6 linked regions of the Homo sapiens genome follow. The protein of the gene in region 6 purifies or fractionates together with the protein of the main gene of each other region. This does not show direct contact. Each region holds a gene or a part of one and is shown on either strand. Other genes may lie near its edges. The genes, in order: DNAJA2, RNF216, DNAJC7, ASPSCR1, ACAD11 and URGCP.

Evidence for each region.
Region 1: the proteins of URGCP (region 6) and DNAJA2 purify together in Homo sapiens (affinity purification with mass spectrometry; one large-scale study listed by BioGRID and IntAct). This does not show direct contact.
Region 2: the proteins of URGCP (region 6) and RNF216 purify together in Homo sapiens (co-immunoprecipitation; one large-scale study listed by IntAct). This does not show direct contact.
Region 3: the proteins of URGCP (region 6) and DNAJC7 purify together in Homo sapiens (affinity purification with mass spectrometry; 2 studies listed by BioGRID and IntAct, with this or other methods). This does not show direct contact.
Region 4: the proteins of URGCP (region 6) and ASPSCR1 purify together in Homo sapiens (affinity purification with mass spectrometry; one large-scale study listed by BioGRID and IntAct). This does not show direct contact.
Region 5: the proteins of URGCP (region 6) and ACAD11 purify together in Homo sapiens (affinity purification with mass spectrometry; one large-scale study listed by BioGRID and IntAct). This does not show direct contact.

The regions. Positions count from the first base shown.
Region 1 is NC_000016.10:46,959,441-46,964,369, forward strand, and holds part of DNAJA2 (dnaJ homolog subfamily A member 2), read right to left. Parts: intron 1-4,929. UniProt on the Homo sapiens protein: Co-chaperone of Hsc70. Stimulates ATP hydrolysis and the folding of unfolded proteins mediated by HSPA1A/B (in vitro).
Region 2 is NC_000007.14:5,739,718-5,744,646, reverse strand, and holds part of RNF216 (E3 ubiquitin-protein ligase RNF216), read left to right. Parts: intron 1-2,831; coding exon 2,832-3,674; intron 3,675-4,929.
Region 3 is NC_000017.11:41,978,845-41,983,773, reverse strand, and holds part of DNAJC7 (dnaJ homolog subfamily C member 7), read left to right. Parts: exon of another isoform or gene 1-137; coding exon 138-211; intron 212-1,372; coding exon 1,373-1,519; intron 1,520-1,766; coding exon 1,767-1,919; intron 1,920-4,929. UniProt on the Homo sapiens protein: Acts as a co-chaperone regulating the molecular chaperones HSP70 and HSP90 in folding of steroid receptors, such as the glucocorticoid receptor and the progesterone receptor.
Region 4 is NC_000017.11:82,007,962-82,012,890, reverse strand, and holds part of ASPSCR1 (tether containing UBX domain for GLUT4), read right to left. Parts: intron 3,855-4,929; coding exon 3,700-3,854; intron 3,406-3,699; coding exon 3,324-3,405; intron 2,090-3,323; coding exon 2,023-2,089; intron 1,349-2,022; coding exon 1,286-1,348; intron 736-1,285; coding exon of another isoform or gene 661-735; coding exon 608-660; intron 1-607. UniProt on the Homo sapiens protein: Tethering protein that sequesters GLUT4-containing vesicles in the cytoplasm in the absence of insulin. Modulates the amount of GLUT4 that is available at the cell surface. Enhances VCP methylation catalyzed by VCPKMT.
Region 5 is NC_000003.12:132,575,772-132,580,700, forward strand, and holds part of ACAD11 (acyl-CoA dehydrogenase family member 11), read right to left. Parts: intron 3,788-4,929; coding exon 3,721-3,787; exon of another isoform or gene 3,111-3,720; coding exon 3,025-3,110; intron 1,245-3,024; coding exon 1,173-1,244; intron 156-1,172; coding exon 1-155. UniProt on the Homo sapiens protein: Acyl-CoA dehydrogenase, that exhibits maximal activity towards saturated C22-CoA.
Region 6 is NC_000007.14:43,874,554-43,879,482, forward strand, and holds the end of URGCP (up-regulator of cell proliferation), read right to left. Parts: intron 4,708-4,929; coding exon 2,114-4,707; 3' UTR 1,360-2,113; downstream 1-1,359. UniProt on the Homo sapiens protein: May be involved in cell cycle progression through the regulation of cyclin D1 expression. May participate in the development of hepatocellular carcinoma (HCC) by promoting hepatocellular growth and survival.

The sequences.
Region 1 (4,929 bases), on a different chromosome or scaffold from region 6:
AATACATTTTCTTAAAAATTATGGAGGTACACCCTGCAGCATTATGTTCCTTGACTTAATTTCAAAACCTTATTTCTACCACTCACTGCAAATCCAAAGTGCCACTGTCCCTAGTGCCCTAAACCGCATTAGGAAAGCTAGCTATTCCCAAGTAGTATGTGAGAAACTTCCATGAGGAAGGTGTACTGGAACTGGTAAACAATGGCATATATAAGAGCAACAGAACTGAGGCCCTCAAAACAGTGCCAGGTATATTCTGCAACTATTGCCCACTTTCAGACTCTGCCTCTGGTGAAAAAGGTACAGAATGCCCAGAGGGCTCCTACAGAACAGGCTCACCCTGGAGTGCTCCCCAGACATGATCGTAACAGGGAAGGGGGGAGGGTCCAAGATCAACATAAAACCCAACATCAACCAGTTAACACCCAGCCAGCAAAGTCAAGTGGCTCAATTCCGTGCTTCACACACATACCAACAAGTCTCACATCTCACTAAAATGCAAAACTGGCTCATTCAATATTACACTATAAGCCTATGGACTAGGTAATGCAAAAGGTATTGAGAATAAGCACAAAGAATGTTTCTGAGCCTTCAATGTGTAGGAAAAATACATCCAACTTCACACGCCCAACCTGCAATTTTTGCTTAGATTTTACAATGGTCACTCTTCTTGTAAAGAACAATCCTGGCCGGTTCACTTATAGAAAATCTGGTAGACAGGTTCTTTTCCTATGTTACTCTCCTAAATTTACTCATTAAACAAAGTTAAACCATTACCTTAACCAATGATTCTCTAAGTGTGGTTCTGGACCAGCAGCTTCAGGAAACTTGTTAGGAACACATATTCTTGGGCCCCACTTCCATTCCTGCCAGAAACAAGGCAGGCAAGATCCAGCATCTGTAGTCCTAACAAGCCCTCCAGGCAATTCTTGTGTGTGTGCTAAAGTTTGAGATCCAAGAAGGTATGTTATGTATGCACATATATTCAAGTGTTCCTCACAATGGGACCAATAGTTTTTTTAATGCAGGATTTTTCAACGCATTAAAAATGCTAAGTAGGCCAGGTGCAGTGGCTCACACCTGTAATCCCAGCACTTTGGGAGGCCAAGGCAGGCGGATCACAAGGTCAGGAGTTCAAGACCAGCCTGGCCAATATGGTGAAACCCCATCTCTACTAAAAATACAAAAATTAGCCAGGTGTGGTGGCACGCGCCTGTAGTCCCAGCTACTTAGGAGGCTGCGGCAGGAGAATCACTTGAACCTGGGAGGCGGAGGCTGCAGTGAACCAAGATCACACCACTGCACTCCAGCCTGGGCGACACAGCGAGACTCCATCTCAATAAGAAAAAAATAAAAAAATTTAAAAAAGCTAAATATAGGGTCAGAGCTTTGGGAGGCCAGTTCAAAACAGCAACATAGGGAGACAAAAAATTAAAACATAAACTAGGCTAGTTGAGGCAGGACGATCCCTTGAGCCCAGGATTTGGAGCCTGCAGGGGCAGTCCCTCCTCATTAATGATCCAGCCACTGCACTCCAGCCTGGGAGACAGAAGGACATCCTGTCTCTTAAACATAATAATAATAAATTTAAAATAAATGCTAAGTATACTGTAAAATGCCAGTGTTCTAAGAACCATCTTACCAAATATCCTTTGTTAAAGTCATACTATTTTAGGATGCATGCAGTGGCTCATGCCTATAATCCCAGCACTTTGGGAGGCTGAGGCAGGTGGATCACCTGAGGTCCTGGTCATCATGGCGAAATTCTGTCTCTACTAAAAATACAAAAACTAGCTGGGTGTGGTGGCATGAGCCTGTAGTCCCAGCTACTTGGGAGGCTGAGGCAGGAGAATCACTTGAACCCGGGAGGTGGAGGTTGCAGTGAACAGAGATCGCGCCACTGCACTCCAGCCTGGGTGACAGAGTGAGACCCCATTTCAAAAATAAAAACAAAAATAAAAAGTGGGGCAGGGCACGGTGGCTCACACCTATAATCCTAGCACTTTGGGAGGCCGAGGTAGGCAGATCACTTGAGGTCAGGAGTTTGAGACCAGCCTGGGCAACATGATGAAACCCCATCTCTACTAAAAATACAATTGCGCCACTACACTCCAGTCTGGGTGACAGGGCAAGACTGTCTCAAAAAAAAAAAAAAGAAAAGGGAACAGGAAGAGATACACATCACGTTCTTGTACAGGAGAGTTCAACTGAAAGTGATTTCAATAAAAAATGATTATGATTATCAGGATGGTTGTTGCAGCAGAGCGGGGAAGCTAAACAATTTGATGTTAAAAGTTTAAACAGAATAAACAAGCAAGGATGCCAGAGAGTTTCTGAAAAACAAGATTAATGAGGAGGGACCACCAAGCACTAGACCAGAAAACACTTAGAAGTCATATTTCTGAATAACAAAAGTACAGGTTATAGAGGCGTGACTAACATCACCAGGTTCTGTGGTTTGATGCTGTACAAGTGCACTATGGTAACCAGACCACCGAGACACACAAACAGGCACACTGACAAGTGACATGGCAGGATGATGACTATAGATGATACAGCACTCCCAAGAAGGAACGAGACAAACTTCCATTCTAACCTTTACCATCTTCTATTTTCTACTTTAGACAACTAGCTACATCTGCCTTCTGTTGAAAATTCCATGCCAATTCCACTGCTGCCAACAATTTTCAGAGATGAGTTACTTCCCAACACCTCCCCACAGGCCCCAAGAAAGAAGCTTATTCATAATCTCATTTGACTCTTTAATATCCAAAAAGTCCAGGGAAGCCAAAGCTAGTAAACGGGGCCCAGACCTTAAGTCCTTTGCCTCCAAATCCAATGATCTACTTTTAAAAACCCAATTTAATTATGCAGCAACATTAAAAACTAAACTTAGGGATAAAAAAGGTTTTACCATCAGTTTGACATGCCTCAAACCAAAAAAAAGTCATCCTTCCTCTGCAAATAAGCATTCCTTCTTCACTTCCTATCATGCTGCTGCACTGCCAGACATCATTTGACAACGAACCCCAAACGACTCCAAGGATTCTATCAATGAAAATGCCCAGGCACTGTCTGTACCATTTTACAACACAGTCTAACCTCCAAGCAGAATTTCCAATTATTTAGCTGTCTTGCTAGCTTTCTCCCTCATATTCCTGGTATGGTGGTGTGCACAGCAGCAAGACTGAAGGAACAAGGAAGTAGCTAAAATGTTAACAAATAGCAAATCTTGTAAATATTTCATTCTACAAGACCCAAAGGCAGAATTCTAAAAACTACTCTTACTTTTTGACAACCGAGGAGACGTTTGCTATCTGTAGGGTTGGCAATTTCCACAAAAAGCCAAAATACATAATTTGTAGCTTTGCTGAGTCATGAAAGCTGACTAGCATGCCCTGATTGTCCAGGAGATCAAGTCTGACCTTGTGAGGGATTACTACCAAATTCCTAAAACCTGCATCTCAATATGGCTTTGTTGTTCTCTATTGGATTCTTAAAGTGATTTTTAAAATTTACTCTATTTGAAGAAATGATCACCACAGAAGGACGATCTCCTTCTTTATCAAATATAACCTTTAAATTATAAATGATAATCAGCTTGCCCACCTTTTTAGAATTAAAAAGAATAACCTTTCACTGAACATAATACAAATTTACCATTTCTCCGTGTTCATTGGGCTTATGCATAGGAGAAAATTTTAGGGCAAACTAAAAAGGTGGTTAACCTGTGATGTAATGATTTTCAGAGGAACACATGAGTAAATGTGATCAAGTACAAAGCTAGAGTCCTATCAAGTGCTTCTAACATTCAAGAATTTAGGTGATTACTGGAGGGGTTTTTCATGAATAGTTCCAGATTTATTCTTTGAGTAGGGTCTACAGTATACAATATGGACATTAAAAATATACAAGTGCAATGTTAAAATCAAAATAACATACACTAGGCTGGGCACTGTGGCTCACACCTGTAATCCCAGCACTTTGGGAAGTTGAGACAGGAGGATCGCTTGAGCTCAGAAGTTCAAAACCAGCCTGGGCAATATGGCAAGACCCTGTCTCTACTAAAAATACAAAAAAAAAAAAAACCCCAAAAAACAAACAAACAAAAAAATAGATGGGCATGATGGTGCACCAGTTGTCCCAGCTACTTGGGAGGCTGAGATGGGAGGATTGCTTGGGCCCAGGGGCGAAGGTTGCAGTGATCCCAGATCACACCACTGTACTCCAGCCAGGGCGACAGAGCAAGACCATCTCAAAAACAAAAACCCCCCAAAACATACACTAGTGACCACATTCTTCAGAAGCTTCTAAAAAAATATTTTTTTTAAAAAAAATCCCAGAACCCTTTCAAGGATAGCTCACTTGGGTACCCAATAAGTAAAAACCAAATCGACAGAGCAGCAGAGTTTCACAGTGAAAATACAGGCTGCCTTAGATCAACTGGTCCAACACCCAGTGCCCTTATTTTCATAAACAAAGAAACTGAGACAGTAAGATTACCTATGGTTAAAGTGTTAGTCAATGACCAGGCCAGAGGAGAATCGCTTGAACCTGGGAGGTGGAGGCTGCAGTGAGCCAAGATCGTGCCACTGCATTCCAGCCTGGGTAACAAAGCAAGACTCCGTCACACACACACAAAAAAGACCAAGGCCAGGCGCGGTGGCTCCCGCTTTTAATCCCAGCACTTTGGGAGGCTGAGGCAGGCAGATCACCTGAGGTTGGGAGCTTGAGACCAGCCTGACCAACATGGAGAAAGCCTGTCTCTACTAAAAATAAAAATTAGCCAGGAGTGAAGAAGCATGCCTGTAGTCCCAACTACTCGGGAGGCTGAGGCAGGAGAATCACTTGAACCCGGGAGGCAGAGGTTGTAGTGAGCCGAGATCGCACCATTGCACTCCAGCCTGGGCAACAAGAGTGAAACTCCAA
Region 2 (4,929 bases), about 38 Mb from region 6:
GTTTGTTTTGTAGAGTCTTCAGAACCAATGTATTCTTTGAGGTTTTGAATATATTCTATAGAATTAAACAAAACAGACTGTTGTTCTACTTTGTCTTAATCTGTGACTCCTTATGTTTTTTCCCTTATTTAGTTCGAATGGTTATTTGAACTAACCATTATGTGTCCCCCTCCTTCCCTTCCCTCCCTTGTTTTCCTTCCTCCTCCTCTACCAAAGAAACAGCTTCTTCTCTTCTACAACTCCAGTTATGTGTTTTGAAGACCTTTTTGTTCTTGACGTGTTCTCTTATCTAATGTTGCATTTTGTCTATGCCTTACTATGGCTATTCTGACCTGGCTTTCAATGCACTAATTTCTCTCTTCAACTGTATTTACTTAAAATGCTATATATCCATATGTAGCATTAGTTATTGTATTTTTAGTTTTTGTATTAGTTATTGTATTTTTCCATTCTGGAATTTGCGTTCGATTCTTCTTCTTCTTGGCTGCAGTTCTCAATCTAGTCTTTGATTTCCCTAAACATGCTGTTACTTTAGAATTCATGTTGTTAATTTCACTGTGTGAAACCCTTGTATATTTGTTTCTGTTGTCTGTTACTTCTCTTGTTTTGATTTTCTGTTGCTGCATTAAGTTCTTGTATGCCTAGTTATTTTTGATTGAGTGTAAGTCATTGTATATGAAAATTTTGGGATTCTGTATGATGTTGTTTCTCTATAGAGGATCTTAATTGGTTTCTTGAAGAAGAGTAAGAGCACCAGCACCTCACATTCAGGGAGTTAAACTCTCCACGCTGCGATTCAGTTCCTGGGAGGTCCAGGGTATTTCCAGCTTGGCCCTTACTTCAGTGGCATAGTCCTCAGGGACCCACCCTAAAGCCTGAGATTCACCATCTCCTTTCTTCTAGGGACTTCCCAGAGGAACTGTTGTTACCAGTTTAGCATGTATCCTTCCAGGTCTTTTCTTTGAATTTGTATGTATCCATGTGTATATACATGTGGGTACATATACATACTTTTAGAAATGATTTTGTTTGTGTCTTATTGACATATTTTAAGTAAATGGAATCATTCTGTGTATGATTTTGCAGCTTGCTTTTCTTCACTTAATGGCATTTCTTAGTGAAGCTTCCCATTTCAGTACAGACTGAGCTACCTCTTTTTTTGGTAGGGGTCAGTTGTAGAGTATTTTGTAGAACAAATAAGTAATAGTTTATTTAACCATTCACTCAGGGACAAACTTCACAATGTCTCTAGGCTTTTTTCTGTTTATGCTGAATATTCTTGTATATGCCCTTTTTCGATAGAGTTTATAGAACAGTATGAAAAAATGATGACAGACATACATTTTTTATTTATATTTATGTATTTGTGTATTTATTTATTTATTTGAGACAGAGTCTTGCTCTGTCTCCAGGCTGGAGTGCTGTGGTACCATCTTGGCTCACTGCAACCTCTTGACTCCCTGGTTCAAGCAATTCTGCTCCGTCAGCCTCCCGAGTAGCTGGGATTGCAGGCACACGCCACCATGTCCAGCTGATGTTTGTATTTTTAGTAGAGACGGATTTTCACCATGTTGGCCAGGATGGTCTCGATCTCCTGACCTCGTGATCCGCCTGCCTTGGCCTCCCTGAATGCTGGGATTACAGGCATGAGCCACCACGCCTGGCCTACGTTTTTTATTTTAATAAATAGTGCCAAATTTCTCTCCTAAATTCACCAGCAGTAAATGATAGTATAAGAATTTTCACACATCGGCCAAGCGCGGTGCCCCACACCTGTAATCCCAGCACTTTGGGAGGCTGAGGTGGGCCAGTCATCTGAGGTCAGGAGTTCAAGACCAGCCTGGCCAACATGGCAAAACCCTGTCTCTAACAAAAATAGAAAAATTAGCTGGATGTAGAGGTGTGCGCCTATAATCCCAGCTACTCGGGAGGCTGTGGCAGGATAATTGCTTGAACCTGGGAGGCAGAAGTTGGAGTGAGCTGAGATCATGCCATTGCACTCCAGCCTGGGCAATAGAGCGAGACTCTGTCTCAAAAAAAAAAAAAAAAAAAAAAAAAAAGATTTTTCACCATCCTCACCAATGCTTGGTATTATCTAATTTAAAAGTTTGCCGGTCTTACAGGGAAAAAAATACTGTCTTGTTTTAATTTTTCATTTTGCTAGTTACTAATGAGATTTAGATTTTTTTATATGTTTTTTGAACATTTCTTATTCTTCTGATGTGTTAGCATTCTTTCATTGTTGTATCTGCTGTGGAGTTATTTTTGTTTTAGTAGTCTCAGGTTAAATTATAATTCAGGGCTGGGTTCAGTGGCTCATGCCTGTAATCCCAGCACTTTGGGAGGCTGAGGGAGGCGGATCACTTGAGGCCAGGAGTTTGAGACGAGCGTGGCCAACATGGCAAAACCCCATCTCTCTTAGAAACACAAAAATTAGCTGGACATGTTGGCACATTTTTGTAATCCCAGCTACTTGGGAGGCTGAGGCACAAGAGTTGCTTGAGCCCGGGAGGCAGAGGTTGCAGTGAGCCGAGATCGCACCATTGCACTCCAGCCTGGGTAGCAGAGGAAAACTGTGTCTCAAAAATAAAAATAAATTATAATTCAAACTATATCTCAAGCTTTAATCTATGAATGACTACTTTGATTCTTACAGATAGTATATAGTGTAATCAAATTTCAGTGTTAAGATAAATGTAAAGAATAGGTATTGTTAAGGGAGATGGTGTTTTTGTTTCTTTCCTGTCCTATCTCGGAAGCTCAATATAAGTACATAAGGAGGGATAGGCATAGGAAAGAAATTGAATTATTAAAATTTCATTTTTTCTTAGACAAATAAACCTCAGAGATCACGACCCAATCTCATCAAACCAGCTGCCCAGTGGCAAGATCTGAAAAGGTTGGGAGAAGAAAGGCCTAAAAAGTCTAGAGCAGCATTTGAATCAGATAAGAGCAGCTATTTTTCAGTGTGTAACAACCCATTGTTTGATTCTGGGGCACAGGATGATTCTGAGGATGACTACGGTGAATTTCTGGATCTTGGGCCTCCTGGAATCTCTGAATTCACTAAGCCAAGTGGCCAAACAGAAAGAGAACCCAAGCCTGGACCGAGTCATAACCAAGCAGCAAATGACATTGTCAACCCCAGATCAGAGCAGAAAGTCATCATCTTGGAAGAAGGTAGCCTTCTTTACACAGAAAGCGATCCTTTGGAAACTCAGAACCAGTCATCCGAAGACTCAGAGACAGAGCTGTTATCAAATCTAGGAGAGTCAGCTGCTCTAGCAGATGATCAGGCCATCGAAGAAGACTGCTGGTTAGATCATCCTTACTTCCAGTCTCTGAACCAACAGCCCCGTGAAATAACAAACCAGGTCGTTCCTCAGGAACGGCAGCCTGAAGCAGAACTGGGCCGCTTGTTGTTTCAGCATGAATTCCCAGGGCCCGCTTTTCCAAGGCCGGAACCCCAGCAAGGTGGGATTTCAGGCCCCTCTTCTCCTCAGCCTGCCCATCCTCTAGGAGAGTTTGAAGACCAGCAGTTAGCAAGTGATGATGAAGAGCCAGGTCCAGCCTTTCCAATGCAAGAATCTCAAGAGCCCAATTTGGAAAACATTTGGGGGCAAGAAGCTGCAGAGGTAGATCAAGAGCTCGTTGAACTACTAGTGAAAGAAACGGTAAGTTTTATTTTATCAAGTAAATGTAGACACTACATATACTGAGTTTTTTTCTTTTTTTTTTTTCATTGCAAAAAAAAAAGTTGTTGGTATGCGTGGACTTCATTTTCCTAAGAAGTATATATCTAGATGTACAGAATAGAAGAGACACTCTGAAGACATGAAAATGGAATCAGGGTTCCTTTACTATACTTAACCTTCAGGAAGCTCTCTGGGATTCTAACTGCATATCATGGTGGCCTGGTGCTGTCATACCTGCAGTCCCTTGTTTTTTTCAAATTCCTTGAGTTCACTCCAAATGGAAACCCTTAAAGCAGTTTTATTGAATTACCTAGACCTATGCTGTCCAATATGGCACTTACTAGCTCCTTGTGGCTGTTTACATTTAAATGTCTTACAGTTAAATAAAATTTTCCAGTGGCATCAGTCACATCTTAACCTTAGTAGCCACATGAGGCTAACAGCTTACCTCATCATCAAGCATGGAGGACAGTGTTTCTGTCATCCAACAAAGTTCTATTAGTGGTGATATTAAGAGTAACACAAGGGCTGGGCGTGCTGGCTCACACCTGTAATCCCAGCACTTTGGGAGGCCAAGGTGGGTGGATCACAAGATCAGGATATCAAGACCATCCTGGCTAACACGGTGAAACCCTGTCTCTACTAAAAAAATTAAAAATTAGCCGGGCGTGGTGGCGGGCGCCTGTAGTCCCAACTTCTTGGGAGGCTGAGGCAGGAGAATGGTGTGAACCCAGGAGGCAGAGCTTGCAGTGAGTCAGGATCGTGCCACTGCACTCCAGCCTGGGCGACAGAGTGAGACTCTATCTCACAAAAAAAAAAAAAAAAAAAAAAAAAAAAAAAAAAAAAAGGTGTTACATCTGGTAGCCACTATTTGCCTTCAAACAAGTCCGTTAACCCTACTTTACCCAGGCGGGTTTTTTTTGTTTTGTTTTTGGTTTGTTTTTTTTTTGAGACCGAGTCTCACTCTGTCACCCAGGCTGGGGTACAGTGGTGCGATCTCAGCTCACTGCAACCTCCGCCTCCTGGGTTCAAGCGATTCTTCTGTCTCTGCCTCCCGAGTAGCTGGGATCACAGGCACATACCACCACGTCTGGCTAATTTTTGTATTTTTTTAGTAGAGACGGGGTTTCACCATGTTGGCCAGGCTGGTTTTGAACTCCTGACCTCAGGTGATCCGCCTGCCTCGACCTCCCAAAGTGCTTCGATTATAGGCATGAGCCACTGCACCCGGCCA
Region 3 (4,929 bases), on a different chromosome or scaffold from region 6:
TTAAGGGCTCCTGTTTCTGAAGCATCTTACCAGAAGTGTGTGTCTCTTGCTTGAGCCATGCCTCTTGCCCTAGAGTGATCCTGAGAACCACTGCTATTTATGTCTTAGTGCTGTATTGCCTTGTATTTCCTTCTCAGTTACATGGACACAGAACAGTATGAAGAAGCAGTACGAGACTATGAAAAAGTATACCAGACAGAGAAAACAAAAGGTAAGTTTAAAAGCATTTGTTTTTTAGGGAACTGTGTGGACTTCGTAGGCCATAAATCTGTACACAAGGTAGTTTGATTCAGGGATCAGGGATCTACCTAGAACTTATTTGATCACCAGCCAGAAAGAAGTGAACAAAGGCTGGGCGTGGTGGCTCACGCCTGTAATCCCCAGCACTTTGGGAGGCTGAGGCAGGCAGATCACCTGAGATCAGGAGTTGGAGACCAGACTGGCCAACATGGTGAAACCCCATCTCTACTGAAAATACAAAAAATTGTGGGTATGGTGGTATACGCCTGTAATCCCAGCCACTCAGGAGGCTGGGGCACGAGAATTCCTTGAACCCAGGAGGCGGAGGTTGCAGTGAGCTAAGATTGCGCGACTATACTCCAGCCTGGGTGACGGAGCGAGACTTCATCTCAAAAACAAAAACAAAAAAAAGAAAAAAAAAGTGAACAGATATCTTGGGTTGGGGCATGAGGCACCTATTTTCTGGTTCCAGATCCTCCCTGTCGTTTTCATTTCATTTTTTGTGTGGTGAGGCTAAAGTGAGGAACCTAAGTCTGGGTAGATTTTCTTTTTTCTTTTTCTTTTTTTTTTTTTTAAGATGGAGTCCTGCTCTGTCACCCAGGCTGGAGTGCAATGGCATGATCATAGCTCACTACAACCTTTGCCTCCCAGGTTCAAACAATTATCCTGCCTCAGCCTCCCGAATAACTGGGATTACAGGCACATGGTACCACGCCTGGCTAATTTTTTGTATTTTTAGTAGGGATGGGGTTTCACCATGTTGGACAGGCTAGTCCCGAACTCCTGACCTCGGGTGATCCATTCTGTCAAGCTTGATTCCTCCCATCTTGGGCCAAGGGCCCCTCCTTTCTTTCGTGCTACCGAAATAGAAGCAAACCTGTGTTTAGAGTTCCCTTTTCTGTCTCATTTACCTGCATCTCTCATTGATGCAGGCCTCCCAAAGTGCTGCGATTACAGGCATGAGTCACCGTGCCTGGCCGAGTAGATTTTTTTTCTAATCTCCAGAAGAAAGCACCGTAAAAGTCCCTGGCATGGTTAACAAGGCCTCTAACTCCCAGGCAGCTGGGCTGAGACCTGGTGAGGAAAAAACCAGAGTCAGATTTGTCCACTGATGCCAGATGTCTTCCTGTAGAACACAAACAGCTCCTAAAAAATGCGCAGCTGGAACTGAAGAAGAGTAAGAGGAAAGATTACTACAAGATTCTAGGAGTGGACAAGAATGCCTCTGAGGACGAGATCAAGAAAGCTTATCGGAAACGGGCCTTGATGCACCATCCAGGTAGAGTAGGTGCGGGGAGTGGGCTCAGTGGGAAGAACCCGCAGGGCAGGCCAACTGCCACACTCAGTCCAGAGGGGACCCCTTGGAGAGGTCCTTCAGCTGAGAATAAGGTGTTGCAGACTTGTGGACCCTCCAAATTTTGGGAAGTGCCAAATTCCAAAATTAGACAGAAAGTAGTTTTTCTCTTAAACTTTGTTTTCTTGAAACTTTGATTTCCACTGAGTTGTTCTTTTACTCCCCACTTTAGATCGGCATAGTGGAGCCAGTGCTGAGGTTCAGAAGGAGGAGGAGAAGAAGTTCAAGGAAGTTGGAGAGGCCTTTACTATCCTCTCTGATCCCAAGAAAAAGACTCGCTATGACAGTGGACAGGACCTAGATGAGGAGGGCATGAATATGGGTGGTGAGTTGGCTGGGGCAGCCTGGGATGAATTTGACAGCTGTAGAATGTTAGAATTTTTTCCAAAGATGCTCCAGAGGGAGAGTCTATTTGGGCCAAATCTGATCCCTGGTCCAAACAGTAATAGACATGGAGTCAAACAAATGCAGTCAAATGTGGCAGGTTCACAGTGTGCAGTGAGCTCTGAGGAGGCGAGCACTAGCAAGGGAAGGCTTGGAAGTGCAGAAAAGCATGGCCCCATGGGTCATGCCTGTAATCCCAGCACTTTGGGAGGCCAAGGCAAGCAGATCACTTGAGGTCAGGAGTTTGAGACCAGCCTGGCCAACATGGTGAAACCCTGTCTCTACTAAAAATACAAAAATTAGGCTGGGCGCGGTGGCTCATGCCTGTAATCTCACCACTTTGTGAGGTCAAAGCAGGTTGATCACCAGGTCAGGAGTTTGAGACCAGCCTGGCCAACATGGTGAAACCTCGTCTCTACTAAAATACAGAAATTAGCCAGGTGTGGTGGTGGGCGCCTGTAATCCCAGCTACTCGGGAGGCCGAGGCATGAGAATCGCTTGCACCCAGGAGGCGGAGGTTGCAGTGAGCCGAGATTGTCCCACTGTACTCCATCCTGGGCGACAGAGCAAGACTTTGTCTCAATTAAAAAAAATAATAAGAAGAAAGAAAAAAGAAAAATTAGCCAGGTGTGGTGGTGCACACCTGTAATCCCAGCTACTTGAACCCGGGAGGTGGAGGTTGCAGTGAGCCAAGATGGCGCTACTGCACTCCAGCCTGGGCAACAGAGTGAGACTCCATCCCTCCCCACTAAAAAAGCAAAGCATGGCCTCTTTGGGGATCTGCAGGGGGCTTGGTCTAGGGAAGATAAAGGGATAGGGTGCTAGAGGCAGGTGGTGGTGGAAGGCCGGCAAGTAGCTGGATCAGAGCTCACAGGCCATAAGGGCTGTATGTGGTAAGGAATATGAGCATTTTCCTATTATCTGGAAGTTCTTTTTTACCCACTGCAAAGTGTATGCTGACATTTATGTATGTCATACATTCCTATAAACACTCACAGATTTTAATTTCCCAAAAAGATTTAGCATGATATAAAGCACACCTATTGTCAATATTGTTGCTCACTGTGGGCTGTCAGAGATAAGAGGCCCTGACCTGTGAGCTGGGCGCGGTGGCTTACGCCTGTAATCCCAGCACTTTGGGAAGCCAAGGCGGGCAGATCACCTGAGCTCAGGAGTTCAAGACCACCCTGGGCAACATACAAAATACCAAAAAAATTGTACTCTCTACTAAAATACAAAAAAATTAGCTGAGCATGGTGGTGCATGCCTGTGGTCCAAGCTACTCAGGAGACTGAGGCACCAAAAACTCTTGAGCCCAGGAGGCAGAGGTTGCAGTGAGCTGAGATTGCGCCACTGTACTCCAGCTTGGGTTACAGAGTGCGACTCCATCTCAAAAATTAATTAATTAATTCAGTCAGTCTTCACTCTAAGTTGTCTGCCAAAAAATTTGCTGGGCATGGTGGCTCACGCCTGTAATCCCATCACTTTGGGAGAACAAGGTGGGCGGACCACAAGGTCAAGAGATTGAGACCATCCTGCCCAACATGGTGAAACCCCGTCTCTATGAAAAATACAAAAATTAGCTAGCCATGGTGGCGCACGCCTGTAGTCCCAGCTACTTGGGAGGCTGAGGCAGGAGAATCGCTTGAACTCGGGAGGCGGAGGTTGCAATGAGCTGAGATCGCACCACTGCACTCCAGCCTGGCGACAGAGCAAGACTTGTCTCAAAAAAAAAAAAAAAAAGAGGACCTGACCTGTGAATGGTGAACAGACCTACCATCTCTTCCACTAAGAAAATCTATTGGGATTTTGTTTTTTGTTTTGTTTTGTTTTTTGAGACGGAGTCTTGCTGTGTCACCCAGGCTGGAGTGCAGTGGCACCATCTCGACTCACTGCAACCTCCGCCTCCAGGGTTCAAGTGATTCTTCTGCCTCAGCCTCCCGAGTAGCTGGGACTACAGGTGTGCGCCACCACGCCCAGCTAATTTTTGTATTTTAAGTAGAGACGGGGTTTTACCATATTGGCCAGGCTGATCTGGAACTCCTGACTTCGTGATCCACCCACCTCGGCCTCCCAAAGGGCTGGAATTACAGGCGTGAGCCACCGCGCCCGGCCTTTTTTTTTTTTTTTTTTTTTTTAAGACTGAGCCCAGTCTGGGTGCAGTAGTGCCATCTTGGCTCACTGCAACCTCTGCCTCCAGGGTTCAAGCAATTCTCCTGCCTCAGCCTCCTGAGCAGCTGGGATTACAGGCATCCACCCCCATGCCTAGCTAATTTTTATATTTTTAGTAGAGACAGGGTTTCACCATGTTGGCCGGGCTGGTCTTGAACTCCTGACCGCAAGTGATCTACTGGCCTTGGCCTCCCAAAGTGCTGGGATTACAGGCGTGAGCCACTGTGCCTGGCCTTCCATTGCAACTTATTTATTTATTTAATTTTTTTTTGTTGTTATGTTTTTGAGACATGGTCTTACTCTGTCACCCAGGCTGGTGTGCAGTGGTGCAGTCTCAGCTCACGGCAACCTCCACCTCCCAGGTTCAAGAAATTCTCCTGCCTCAGCCTCCTGAGTAGCTGGGATTACAGGCACCTGCAGCCACACCCGGCTAATTTTTATATTTTTAGTAGAGACGGGGTTTCACCATGTTGGCCAGGCTGGTCTCAAACTCCTGACTTTGTGTGATCCGCCCATCTTGGCCTCCCAAAGTGTTGGGATGACAGGCGTGAGCCACCGCACCCAGCCGGAATTTAAAATAAGAATGATGGTACTATATAGATAATGCTGAGTCCTCTCCAGTTCAGTGTGGGGGTATTTGTGTTTAATAAACCTAGGTTCACCACAATAAACATGTTCCTCTGCCTAGCAGTTAAGAAGATCTATAAGCAGTCAAAAACTAGTGAAGAGGTTTTGTTTTGTTTTGAGACGGAGTCTCACTCTGTCGCCCAGGCTGGAGT
Region 4 (4,929 bases), on a different chromosome or scaffold from region 6:
ATTGCTTCTGGCTCTGGAGGGCGGCCCAGCAGGGCTGGGAACCCGGCACCCTCACCCTGGCCCCACCCTCAGGAGCCCTCAGGGAGGTGGCAGGGACCCACAGAAGCAGCGGACAGCTATGGGCACCAGGGCGTTCCTAGCAGGGACCGGGGGGCCAGCGGGAGAGGCCGGGCAGGGGGAAGGGGCAGCTGAAGCCCAAGGCGGCCGCCTCCAGCTGAGGGCCTGGTCCCTCTGGGGCTCCCTGAGCCCTGCTCCGAGGCCTGCCGGGCCCTTCCTCACCCAGACCCCTGGGCAGGGACTGCTGCCGCCTTGGCCCCAGCACAGCAGCCCAGGGGGGCCGAGACCTCCAAGCGGCCTCAGTTCAGGCAGGCCGCCTAGCAGGTCCTTTCCCACCCGGGGCCAGGCAGGAAGCAGAGGAGGCCGGAAAGCCGTGTCAGAAGCAACTTCAGAGGCGCACGGCCCCCTCGGAACCCACCGGCTCTCAAAGGCTTTATTATCCTGCCCCAGCGCCTGCCAGGCCCCTCCTTCCTGCCCGAGGCCTCACGCTCTCGTCCTGCCCTCCCTGGAGGGCCCCGCCCCGCAGCACCCCAGGGAGGCCCTCAGGTACCTGAAAGAGGGTCTGCGTGTGGTCGTCCAGGACTGTTTTTGGAGGGGTGATGACTGAGGAGAGAAGGCACCTACGTGTTAGGAAGCACCGTGGACCTCGCCCATCCATGCGCCCGAAGGAAGACAGGCCTGCAGATGGGGGTGACGCCTCAAGTGGGGCAGAAGAGCCCCTCACGAGCACGCCCTGTGCCCACACTCCTGCTGCAGAAACTCCAGCTGAGGGCTCGGAAGGGCCGGTGGGGGGCAGGCCCACCTGCAGGGGACACCACCCGTGCAGCCCGGCTCCCCTTGCAGTGGGCAGCCTAACCCTTTGCCACCTAGACACCCTCCAAGGGAGGCCAGCCACTCCCTGTCCACCCACCCTTCCCACAGCCCTCGGGCAGGAGTGGCCTGAGCCCCAGGGGTGGGGACCAGGCTGGGGTGCAGCAGGGCTCCAGAGGGGAGCAGGGCGCTGAGAGAGAAGGCAGGAAGCCTGGCTCCCACCGCCTGGCTCGGGGAGAAGGGCCCTCCTAGGTCTCCACACAGACACCATGGGCTGCAGGAGGCACCTGGGCGGGAGGCCACAGATGCTGCTCCTGTGGAGAAGCTGCCACGAGCCCCAGCTGGGACGGGCGGTGTGCCCACAGCACCAAGGCCCCGAGCACTGGAGGCAGGAGTGGGCTCAGGAGAAAAAACGTACACAGGTAAAATGACAGCTCGGGGTTCCCCAGGTGGCTCCTCACGAAGTCTCGCAAGTCCCCCACTGCAGAGGAGAAAAAGAACATACAGACAGCTCTTCCACCACGCCAGCCCCGGGCTGCCCCAGCACCTGGGCCACTGCTCCCACCCTCCTGGGCCTTTCCCCGAGGGGTGGGAATTCAGCCCTGTTCCTCCCACAGCACTCCAGGTGCTCGGCGTGGCTGGGCCACCGTGCGGGCCACACTTGGGACCCCCGCCCTGCTGGAGAGCACTCCCACTGCCACCCGCTGCCCCCCAGCCCCACCCCCGCCCCAGCCTAAGCGCTTCCCTTTCCCTGGGGGAGGCCCCTGTGACCTTGGGCTGCTGCCGCCCGGCCGTCTGGGTACAGGTCACAAGCCCCTGAATGTCACAGCACCACTGCCCTCCTCCCGGGGTAGGGTGCCTTCCTCTGGGTGCCCCTCTGCCCCACCCATGCCCAGTAGGTGGGCGACGTGAGCACTCAGGACCACGGGCTCCCTGAGCTGGGGCCGGGCACCTGGAGCAAGCGCCCAGCCTGCCTGACACTCTGCGAACTGGGATGCCTCTGCACCCCCAAGGGGACATCAGCACCCGCACCCACCCAGTGCCCTGGAGCCCGCAGGCCAGGTGGCTGCAGTCCTGTGGCCTGGAAGGAAGGAGCCGGGAGAGGCCCCATGGGCCCCTGCCCCCCATCCCCGGACACCCCACAGCGCTGCCCACCTGTCTCGCTGGGGCGGAAGAAGCCCTGTAGGACGTAGCGGTCGGGGAACAGGACCCTCAGAGCCACCTAGGCCAGACAAGTGGAAGGGTTGGAGGGACGGCCGGAGCTGCACCAGGGACCAGGGCGTGGCCTCCCCACTCGGCCCATGCTGGGCCATGGACACCAGGGCTGAGGCAGGCAGAAGCAGCCACCCCCAATCAGGGCCTGGGCTTTGACTCCCCCGTGGCAGGCTGGGCATGGAGACAGCCAAGTGCCGTGTGTGTGCACAGCGGCCTGCGTTCTAAAACCACACTGACCTGGGTTCAAATGTGCTGGTTTTTTTTTTTTTTTTTTTTTTTTGAGATGGAGTCTCACTCTGTCGCCCAGGCTGGAGTGCAGTGGCATGATCTCGGCTCACTGTAAGCTCCACCTCCCGGGTTCACGCCTTTCTCCTGCCTCAGCCTCCCGAGCAGCTGGGACTACAGGCGTGCGCCACCTCTCCTGACTAATTTTTTGTATTTTTAGTAGAGATGGGGTTTCACCGTGTCAGCCAGGATGGTCTCGATCTCCTGACCTCATGATCCGCCCACCTTGGCCTCCCAAAGTGCTGGGATTACAGGCGTGAGCCACCACGCCCGGCTCAAATGTGCTGTTTAAAGTTTCATTCAGCCAGGTGTGGTGGCTCAAGCCTGTAATCCCAGAACTTTGGGAGGCCGAGGCGGGCAGATCACCTGAGGTCAGGAGTTCGAGACCAGCCGGGCCAACATGGTAAAACTCCATCTCTAGTAAAAAAAAAAAAAACAACAAAAATTAGCCGAGCTAGTGGTAGCGGGTACCTGAAATCCCAGCTACTTGGGAGGCTGAGGCAGGAGAACCACTTGAACCCGGGAGGCGGAGCTTGCAGTGAGCTGAGATGGCACCACTGACTCCAGCCTGGGCGACAGAGAGAGACTCCGTCTCAAAAAAAAAAAAAGGTTTCATTCTAAATCATGAGCAGGGGAGGATCAACTGGCCACTAAGGGCATGCGCGCCACCACGGGGGGGCCCTGCTCAGAGCTGTGCCTCAGTCGCCCCCACGTCCCATCCACAGACCTCACAGGGGGCCCCCTCAGAGCTGTACCTCAGTCGCCCCCACGTCCCATCCACAGACCTCACAGGGGGCCCGCTCAGAGCTGTGCCTCAGTCGCCACCACGTCCTGTCCACAGACCTCACAGGGGGCCCGCTCAGAGCTGTGCCTCAGTCGCCCCATCCCGTCCACAGACCTCACGGGGGGCCCCCTCAGAGCTGTGCCTCAGTCGCCCCCACATCCTGTCTGCAGACCTTTGGGTAGCGCTCCAGCTTCTCCTTTATCTGCGCCTCCCTGAAGGCCTTGGTCACCAAGGGGGCTTCTTCCAGGCGCTTCCTGTGGTGAGGAGGGGAAGGAACAGGGCTTCTGGTCAGAATGGGGGCCCTGGCAACAGGCCCCGGGCTCCTCACCTGCACCCTCCAGGGTGGGAGTGGGCTGCTCTCCCCACACAAGGCAGGAAGGTCTGGACGCCCCTCCCTGGGCCCCAACCCTCTGAGGTCCTGTTAAGGGCAGCCTGTCAGGGACCTGGGCCGGGAGCCAGTGCTGGCACTGGGGACAGCGGGCAGCACAAGCACCCGATGGGGCAAACCCTGGCGCGAAGATGCCGGGAGGCACTGAGGGGGCACCCACCGCTCACTCTTGAGCTGGGCCAAGCGTCTTCTCACGTCGTCCACCGTCAGCTCAAAGAACTCATCAGGCAGCTCCGCTGGCCAGGCCTGCAGCCGCTCCTCCAGGTCGGGGTGGCACACCACCGGCTCCCGGTCCACGGGCTCCCGGTCCACGGGCTGGAGGCAGAGGGCGCGGCTGACGGCGGGTGTCACGGGCTGGGCCCTCCGCACCCCGGGCTGTCAGTGCCCCAGCCGAGGTGGTCACACAGACTTGGGAGCTGGGCCCACTCCCTCCCTGGCCCCGGCCAGCGCAGGGCCAAGGCCAGGTCCTGGGGGCAGGGCTGGGCACAGCAGCTGGGGGACCCCACCCCACTCAGAGCCTGTCCAGGGCTGGAGACCCCCCTCTCCCAGTCAGTGCACCAGACCTGATGCTGAGCCCCTGCTCCCCAGCAGGGCACATGGCCCCTGGAGTCTGGCTCAGGCCACGTCAGGGTCTCCATGGGGGGGAGGGGTGGCGACAGCCGCCAAATTAGAGCGTCGGCAAAAACCCCAGTCCAGCTGCCCCCGCTGCCCTCTTGGCCACAGCTCCATGGCCAGGCTGAATCCATGCACGCCTGCCCCCAGGGAACAAGCCGGCCCCTCCCTCTGCCCACCCTGGGATGCGGGAGGGACAGCGTCACCCCTAATTGGCATCAACAGCAATGAAATTGACAAAGCCGGGCCGTGCAGCTCGCGGAGCCCTGGGCAGTGATTTCAATGCATTCAGCACAGTGCTGGGGTACGTGGGACACCTCAGCACTGCGCCGACCCACACTCGGCCCCGTCCCCCCTCACACAGAACAGCCGAGAGCTGTCGGGAGTTGGGGTGGCCTGGAGCCGGCTCTGGGCTCCCACTCCTACCTCACACTCTCGACACCTGGGGATGGCTTGGCAGTCCCTGCGAACAACCCTCCTGGTCCCGTCCCGTCTACCCTGCAGTCTCCCACCCAGCCACGGGCTGCTGCCTCCTGCCCTACACAGCATTCCAGCACCCCCACCATGCCCACACTGGGTGACAGCCAGGGTGCGCCTGCCAGAGGTACGCCTGTCCCAGGTGTCTCCAGGGCTGCCCTCCGGACACACCTGAGACCTCGACTGCTGTGGGCGACAGGGCCCTGCAGCCACCCAGCATGTGGCTCTGTTATGACTTGTCACGGGAGTCTGGCGGGAGCTGCACTGACCTCAGCAGCGTCATGGCAGGGCAGCCAGTGAG
Region 5 (4,929 bases), on a different chromosome or scaffold from region 6:
ATGTGCATACAACTTCTTCTTGAAAGCTATCCTTTGTGTTGCCCGCTCACACATGATCTGCAAAGCGCGTTCCGCCAAACCTACTGTTCTCATACAGTGGTGGATTCTGCCAGGTCCAAGGCGGCCTTGGGAAATTTCAAATCCCCTACCTTCACCTGGGAAGAAAGGGGAAAAAAAGGGGGAATGTGAAAATGGCCTAGCCCATTCCTTTTGTTATTTATACAAATCCTGGGAAAGAGATGAGCTGCCCTTAATAAAAATGGCTTTCTAGTGAAAAAAAGTCAGTTCTATAATAAGGTTCACTATGAATTCATGGGAATTTTGATTTCTATGTTTTTAAAACCACCACCATTAAACATTTCAAATTTCAGAACTGTCTCTTAAGTATGTACTATGCATAAGCTATTTTATTAATGCTGCAATAGATACAAAGTTGGAATAACACATAGTCCCTGTACTAGGAGTTTAGAATCCAGAAGAGTGGGTAAGGGTAAGAGATACAGAGAGAAACAAAGGCAAAGGAAGAAGAGATTTTCTGTTCATCATTATAACCTCAGGGCCTGGCAGGTATCAGGGGCCTGGTGAATGGATGGGATGAACACAAAAACATTCCTGGAAGAGGTGGTATTCTAGATGTTCTTTGAAAGGGATATAGTATTCTAATAAGCAAGAGGATGGCATACAGTGTTCAAAGTTATTTATGCTTCTAACTTATATCTAATACTTGAATTCATAAAGTACTGAGGTTTTCTTAAAACAAATAGAGGCCTACAGATCATGTTCTAGGAGAAAGTGTATTGCTCTGAATTATATAATTTTCATATTATCTTTTCAATTGATGTGATATAGAAAACCACATCCAACACTTAAATAAAACCTCACCATTCCATGTAAGAAAATCCGCCAAACAGAAAACTTTCCCTTGACAAATGGAGTAAACAAGAAGGGAAAGTATTAGGTTGGTGCAAAAGTAATTGCGGCTTTTGCCAAAAACTGCAATTACCTTGGTGCAAAAGTAATTGCAGTTCAAAAACCGCAATAACTTTTGCACGAACCTAATATCTAAATCAAGGTAGACTTCAGGTCTAAATCTGGAAAGACTTATCTTTTCCAGATTTAGAGCTGAAATATTAATGTACAATACTGAAGAATCATTTCCAAATTCAACTCACCTAGTATTAGATTTGTGGCAGGAACTCGCACTTGATTAAAATGGATCTCAAAATGTCCTCCATGAAAATTATCTATAAAATAGAAAATAAAATTTAGAGCAAAAGGAGTTGACTAAAAAAGAGTCACATATTCTTAATCTGCTGAAATATAATTACTTGAAGAAAATAGGATTTCAAAGATCCATATGGCATGAACATTCTGAGGTAAGCCTCAGCCCTGAACCCCAGGACCCAGCAGCCCAGAAAACTCATCAACTGTTCAAGAAGAGAAACCCTTTGATCCAGATGTTTTCTAATTCATTCTCTGAAGTACAATTTCAGAGAGCTAGGAAAAAGGAAGACCAGGCTCCATAGATCCAGCCAGAGTATTTTATTTGTTTTATTATTGCTGCTTCTTTGAAATATTTTACATATGGGGTTCCAAACAATTTGCATGGAAAAAAGTTTCAATGTTTCAAAAATTAAAAATGAGTAATGTAATCCATGTTTCTTATTTTATCATTGTGGAAACCAACGCCTAAAGATGACAGGGGCCTGCTTGAGGGGAAAGAGCAGGCTTGGCATTAGTGATGATACAGAAACTAGACCTTCAGGTAGGTTTACTCCCAGTCTAGACTTGTTCCACTGTGTGTTCGTCTCTTGAAAATACTGGCATTTGAAACACTGAGGCCAGGAACACGTTCACATTTTATCTTTGCATCACCCCTTCTCCCTGCCAAGTTTTAGAGATAATCTCATGCTAACTCTACACCCTTTTCCTGTCAGAGGAGACAATAATCAGCCTTCTCCACACTGTTTCTTTTGGCCCTGGACACAGGGAGTTGGAGAGGTGCTAGTAAAGTTTTCATACTGAATAATCAAATGTAGCCTCTGCAATGGAAATTATTTGCAGCTCAACTATATTATAAACGCATTTTTGGTATCTTTGCGGCCGTTTCGCTGCAACCCAACAATTTCCTACATGCAATTTTCTCCAGCAAGCTTGCTCATCCCATCTTGCCACCTATGCTTACCCTGTGGGTATACTCTACAGCTGCATCTTAACTGATAAGTGATTCTATAAAACTGCAAGTCTTATATCTGCCACTTGAACATATTCATTAGTCATATTCAATGATAAAAAGAAAGCCAGGGGCTGGGCCCGGTGGCTCATACCTATAATCCCAGCACTTTGGGAGGCCGAGGAGGGTGGATTACCTGAGGTCAGGAGTTCGAGACCAGCCTGGCCAACATGGTGAAAGCCCGTCTCTACTAAAAATACAAAAATTAGCTGGGCATGGTGGCTAAGCAAATACTTGCTGAGAGGGTGATCTTAGCAAATATTTATTGTACACAATGAACACGTGCCACAGTAGGTGGCAGGAAACAAATGGATCTTTGCTTCTTAGAAGTCCCACCCAAGGGCAGAGGAAGGAAAATTTTGCACTCAAATAAGTCAAAAACTCATTGCTTTTTAACAGTTCTTGTAAGTTGATTGATTAAGAGGGCTAAAATTGGAGATAAAAATAATTTTATTGTGGATTATCTGTGCATTAATCCATTTTTATGAATGACAGAGAAAAGACTGGTAGTGTTGCTCTTCCTTAAATACAATCTGCCCTTTCCCAAAAAGGCAGAATTTATATTCTATAAATTCTATAATTTATATAATTATAAATTACATAAATGCTATACTATTTCTTTTTATTGGCTCTACTCTGAACTCCACCAGCATTTATATTAAGACAGTTGTCACAGACAAAGGAATATCTAAGAATCTATCTTATGCATTAAAATGCTATTGCCTTCAATGTTACTGCATATTCTAGCCTTCCTGCTTGCTAATGCATGGTCATATTTATTGGATACCTACCTGTGTAGCCAAAAACTGACAAAGGCCTTATTATTTTTACTCCAGGTGTGTTCATGGGAACAAGAATCATGCTGTGCTGTTTGTGTCTAGTCAAAAGAAAAATTGTATTAGAAAAAGTTTGCTAAGAAGAAAAATAAAACAGATAATAAGCAGAATCACAATTGTCTTTTTGATGTTTTCATGTAGTCATGTAAGCAGTGATGACTGGAATGGGAACTGTGTAAAAGACGTACACCAACATAGTCTGATGCAGGCTGTGATCTGGAACAGAAACAATGATTTGAAAATAAATGAGTTGTTTGATTGAAGCTTCTCACTGCTCAACAATGGTAACTGGGAACTTATATATATAATTAAACATTTCAAGATTATTGCCTTTGATCTAAACATCTAATCACTTCATTACACAGGTCTGAAAAAATTTGTCTGATAATTTAATCCAAACAGCTTTGATAATTTAGCAACACTTTCTAATACTGAAAATTCCACAGCGAAGAATGTTCAGCAATACTCCCTATAATGTTTTCCAAAAACACCTGTTAGAAAATACTTGTGAAATACAAATATATGACATTTACTCTCATATCTTACATTATGATTTGTGAGTCCAAACAGTGAATTTTAAGTAAATTACCTAGATAGGAGGAAGACTGGCTCATTCCTACACAGGTTTCTCAATCAGAATTGTTTAATTACCTGGAGAGAGAAGTATTTTGAGTTCTTCCCAAAACAATTGCAATTTTGCACTTGGGATTCCCAGCTCCTAAAACCAAGGGGAACACAAGCAGATTATAAAAGGAAATTTCTAGTTTGACATTTCACCTTGAAGGTTCTAATCCTTCCCACTTTACCTATGTCAGAAAACAAATAGAGAGAACATTCCTGATTCATTAAGATAATAATTCTTTTGTAACACTCTATATCATCCAAGAAAAATGATTAGGCAAGGCCAAGAATGGACCCCATCAATGAAAGCTGCTACACAAAAATAACCAGAAGTCAAAGCAGCATGAAAGAACTGCCACCTCTCCCATTTACACCATTTCAGACATCAGCATGCTAGAAAAGCTGAGAAATTTTATATGTCTAATATAATATTTTATATGTCAACGTATATGAGGCTGTGATCCCACTTTCAATAAGCCTGGTTCTTTTATTAATTTCTTAAGGGTCAAATTTTAAAAATATTTTTTCATTTTAATGCAAAATTTTATTTTATCACAGTTCAGGGGTCTGTGGCAATTGCCTACAAGGGTCTTTTTGCAAAAATTACTTTTAATGTTTACTAGTAAGTCTAGTCCCTTGGGAAAACTACCATTTGACTAGATTTTCAATTACAAGGCTGCACACAACTGGATCAGATTAAGTTAAACACATCTGTACAAAGTCTCAAACAAATGATCGGATTCTTTTTTCTGATTTATTATAAAAAGAGGTTTGAGGAGATTTGAAATCATATAAAGATTTAATGAGAAATGTTAGGAATGATGTCAAATAGTTGAATAATATTATAAAATTCCAGGAGTTAAAAGGATAAACTCCATGGAACATATTAAAGGACATTGCAGGAATGTAATCAGTAAAGTTCAGACTGTGGGAAATCTATAAGACAACTAATCCAGTTTCTTCAACAATTAAATTGCAATAAAAAGAAAAAAGAGAGATAGAGAAGTAGCTTGTAAGATCAAAAGAGAGAGACCTAAAAGGCGTATCAACCAACAGCAATTTTTAGACCTTACTTAGATCCTAATTCAATCAAACAAAATAAAAAGTATTAATGGTAATTATTAAGCAATTAGAAATGTGAATAGTTATTGGAAATGTCATGATATTAAGTAATTTTAGGTGTGCTAATGGTATTGTGGTTACATTTTTTAAAGAGCCCTTACAGAGACACATACTAAA
Region 6 (4,929 bases):
AAAGGCAAGGCCCATCCACAGTTCACAGACTTGAAACATCAACCCTTCAAAAAGGGTGGGAGGAGGCTGGGTACGGTGGCTCACTCCTGTAATCCCAGCACTTTGGGAGGCTGAGGCAGGTGGATCACTTGAGGCCAGAAGTGTGAGACCAGCCTGGCCAACGTGGTGAAACCCTGTCTGTACTAAAAATACAAAAATTATTTGTATTTTTGTGATGGTGGGCGCCTGTAGTCCCAGCTACTTGGGAGGCTGAGAATCACTGGAACCCAGGAGGTGGAGGTTGCAGTGAGATCGCGCCACTGCATTCCAGCCCAGGCAACAGAGCAGGAAAATGAAAAAGGGAAAGGTTTTCCTAAACTTATTACTAAGAGACCAGGTTTGCAGAGAACCAGGCTCCTGGAACGCAGGAGGCAACAGTTTGGATGTCCCGGGAGCAGCAGGTGGAGCATCTGGGGAATCCAGAAATCCACAGCAGGCAGCCTGCCAGGCATCTCCAGAAGAGGGACCAGGAAGCCTTTTGTTCAAGAAAGGATTCCAGTCTAGAAGGCTGGTGAGCTCCCGAGAGCTAAAGGCTCCCTTGCTGTGTCTAGTGAAAGGAGGACAAGAAACATGGTAGGAGCTCTTGGGGAAGGGCCTGGTTTCTCTGAAGTCAAGAAACACAAAGAGAAAGAGGCTCCAAGGTCTAAGCAAGGCCCAGAGGATCAAGCAGAGCTTCCTAGAGCTGGTGAAAGGGCTCAGGTGGGGTTCTGAGGCCCAGTGAGGTGACACTGGCCTCTGGGAAGGGCCAGCACAGGCAAGGACTCCAGCGGGAAAACTGACAGGGCAGAACTACCAAGTCCTTGGCCAAGCCTCTGGTTCGAATGGTGGCAAGTGGGCTGTGGATGAGGTCGGGGAGGATGTAAGAGGAGGCGCTGGCACTGACATGGCTGCCCAGGGGTGAGCCCAGAAGCCATGGGAGTCTGGAGAGGATGAGAGGAAGAGATGCAGGGCTGGGCGTGACAGCACCACCCTTCATCCGCTCCAGCTCTGCCCATCCAGGTGTAAGCTCTGGGGCAGGGGATTACCTGCTCTAGGCTTCCTTTTCCTCAACTGTGAAATGGGGTGACAGTGGAAAGACCTCAGAGTTACTGTGAAGGTATTTAGTTTTAATCCCCAGTAACAGCCTGAAGAATGGCTCCTGCCTTAAAGAGAGGGAACAGGATGGCTTTTTTAAGTGGTGCATCTCTGTGCTATCTACCATTCCAGATACTGCCTGTACCGTACACCCTCCTCAGACAGATGCTGCTATCCTCTTTGAGAAACAGGAGAATTAAGGCACAGAGAGGCAGAACCTGCCCATTACCATCACTTGTGCACTCATTCATTTAACAGACATTTATTAAGCGTCTACAATGTGCCAGGCCCTGGGGACACAGAGCTGGAGAATGTACAGTCCCTGCCCTCAAGGAGCTCACAGTCTGGGGGGACAGACATGTAAACACATGAGTTACAACGCGCTGCGTGAAGTGTGTGGCAGAGGTATAACAAAGTGCTGTGGGGCACAACAGAGCGACCAGTGAACTCTTCCTGGGCAGGGGTCAGGGAAGCCTTCACAGATCAGTCAATAAATACGGTGCCATGGGAGTGCCTTGCACACCACGGGCACTCACATCTTGAATGCTGGTCCACTGGAGGCCCTTGGGTTGGGCGGGAGCAAGGCCTACTTCTGCTTCCTCAGGACAACTTCCCCACCTCTGTCCTGGGACCACCTGCCCGCCTGGGCCTGCAGTGACTAAGGACGCTGCTCCCACTCCAGGGGCCAGTGACAGAGAGCAGCTATACAGAGGGCCCACCCCGCAGGATCCTTGACAGGAGCTGAGACAGAACAAACTGCTGCTTGTCTCCCTACCCTGGGGGCTGTGATATTCTTGGTAACATCTCTGAGCTGGTCTGTGAGGTCACTTCCTCTTTTAACACTGTTGAGGAGACTCCAAACCCTGTCTTTTCCTCGTCTTCTCATGTCGATTGGGCACCAGCCATTCTCAGGCACCAGAGCACAGCCCCACACGGGTGCCCCATCAGACAGGGCTGCCCACAGCAGCCTCCTACACCTGAACTGGGTTTCTCTGCACACTCACAGCCGTCTCACCAGCTCAATGAGCTGCTGGATGTTTTTGTTTTGGTTCGACAAGCCGTTCCTGATGTTTTCGAGTAGGCATCTCTTCAATTCAAATATGGCTTCACTGTAGGCCAAGCTCACTGCGGCCATGGGAGGTGCTCCGTGCCACAGGCCTGGGATGTGCCAGATGTGCTGCTTCTCAGGGTCGCAGAAGGCCAGGCCTGCCAGTGCCCGGAAGCCGTCGCCCTGTTTCTCCATCTGGGCTGCAGCCCTGCTCAGGTCACCAGGTGGATCCAGGAGCTGTCTCTTGTCTCTGGGCCTAGGGCCGGGAACAGATACATCATGAAGGTTCTGGTATACAAACTGGTAGTTGGGCATGTGCCCCGTTTTTTCTAACCTCAGAAATGCATGCAGAATAGCTGCTGGAATGTCCTTGGTTTCAGCTAGACTGATCACGGTGACATTGCTCAGTCCCATGAGCAGAGTGGCCAAGGAAGCCTCCAGCTCAAATCTGTCCCCAGCTGACGTCAAGGCCCCACCTATCAAGCCCCCGGAGTCTATCACCAGGATGTGGTCACAGCCCAGGTCCTGGCTGAAGCCCTCAGCCACTGTGATGAGCTGCATGAAGGCCCCTCGAGGACCGCAGCTCTTCCCTGTGGCAAACCGCAGCCCAAACATGGTGTTGAGGAGTGTGGACTTGCCCGTGCCTGGCACCCCGACGGTTGACAGAACCACCAGCCTTGACCGTCTCTCCAGTCGGACGTGCAGCTCCTTCAGGAGCCCTGTGACCCAGCGGACGGGCATGCTCAGCGTGCTCCCATCGATTAGCTCCAGAGGCAGCCCTGTCAGCAGCAGCTCCGAGGCCAAGCCTGGGAAGTGGGCAAAACGCCTCTGGCCTGCCGGCAGCCTCCCTGCCTCCACAAGACAGCTCTCAGCCTCATAAAACTGTCCCATCTCCCGCAAGAAGTGTTCCACCCCTAGGGGCTCAGGCCAGAGCGGCTCCCCCACGTCTGTGGTGCCCCCATGCTTTGGTCTCAGGGTGAGAAGCGTCTCCGGAGGCTGTCTCAGTCGCGGCTGGGCCACCCGTGCCAGGCCCCACTCCATCCACCTCAGGAAGTACTGCTTCTCACTCAAGGAGGGGCTGCTGATCCCCGAGATGAACTCCTGCACCCCCGAGGAGGGATCATGGCCGTTCTGCTGCATTCGAAGTTCTAGCAGCCGCCGCCTCAGCTCAGCCCTGTGCTTCTCAGGGGGGTCCACGGCCCACTGGAGCTGGCAGAACTCCTTCTCCACTTGGGCTGCCTTTCTCCAGGGGTCCCCCTGCAGCCTCAGCTCGTCCCTTCTGTAGGCATCCGAGTCTTTGATTTTCCTGGTAATCCTCTCCATCCGGTCTTTCGCTTTCTGACACTCCTCACAGTCCTCGTCGACCTTTAGGCCCAGTTTGCGGGCTGCGTGCGCCATGTCCTCCACAGATACCCGCCTGCAGGGTGCCCGCAGCACATTCCCAACGATGGCCCGGATCCTCTTCACGAAGCTGTCGCTGTCAGTGCTGCTGACCTTTACCAGGACATGTGAGTGGTCTATTTTCAGCACAGGAATTAACTTATTCAGAAATCTCAGGTTTGTGTTGCGCTTCCCACGGTAGGGACTCAGGATGAAGTAGTATTTTGTGGTTGACTCCTTCATGGAGTACAGCAATTTGTATTCCTTCTTACTGATATTGTCAGTCAATATAAACACAGCGGAGGAGATTTCTGTCAAGAGCTTAAACTGCAGCCAGTGAGACCCGATGTCACCTCTCAGGTTCAGAAAGGCCACAGGTTCTGGGAAAATGTCCAAGTCCTCCCTTCCGCTGGGAAAAAACCAGGAAATTTCTACCAACCCATCCGAAATCTCCCGGGCATTGGTGCCCAAGTTGAGGTCCCGATGCCAGAAGCAGTCCCACTGCCTGTGGCCCGGGCTGAGGACGGCGTTGAGAAGCTGGGACTTGGAGTTGCTACTGACGTCCATGCGCACGAAGGCGAAGGCGGGCGCCCTGGACAAGACCACGCTGTCTTCCCGGAAGCTCCCCATGCCCCTTGGGGGCTGGGACCACCATGTCCTCACAATGCCCCGCATGGCCCACAGCAGAAATGTATGGTAGTGGTTCTCCGAGTCAGGCAACACGAGTGGGAGTGCAAACTGGCAGAGGGCCATTTTCAACGCTATTTCTTGTTGCAGGAAACTGTCTGAGGAGAGCAGCAGGGCACAGAGAAGGTCTAAGGGGTTCACTGGCGTATCAGGGGTGGGCAGCTCAGAAAAGGAATAAATGTCGGCAGCAAGGTCATCAGCTGGGTCCCAGTAGATGATCTCCTCTTCCATCTGGCTCTCCTTCTCCACAGGCCTGGCGTCTGGGAGCACGTCCAGCACCATAGTGGTATTCCTGGCATCAGCATTGAGGGCCTGCAACTTCCTGAGGAAATTCCAGGGCAAGTCTTTGGGAACCTGAGGGGCCCAGTTCTTCATACTGTCAAAACTGATCTGCAGAGAGTCCTGGAGGCTGAGTTTCTGGACCTGGTACGTCTCTAGGCCCAAAAGTGACAGCATTTCTTGAAGCCTGCTTCTCTCCACTGTGGAAAGAAATGAAGACATAAGTGCTCACCCTGTGTTTCTGAGCTAGGGGCCAGGGAAGAGCTGGTGAAGGAGAGCCCAGCAGGATGGGGAGAGTGACGACCCCCTTCAGAGAGCAGAGTGCAGGCACAGGAGGCTCAGGGTGTGCTCAAGGCTGACCTGAGATCAAGGCAGGGCTGGAACCCGGACATCAAGGTACAATAGGTACCAACCTAACCACA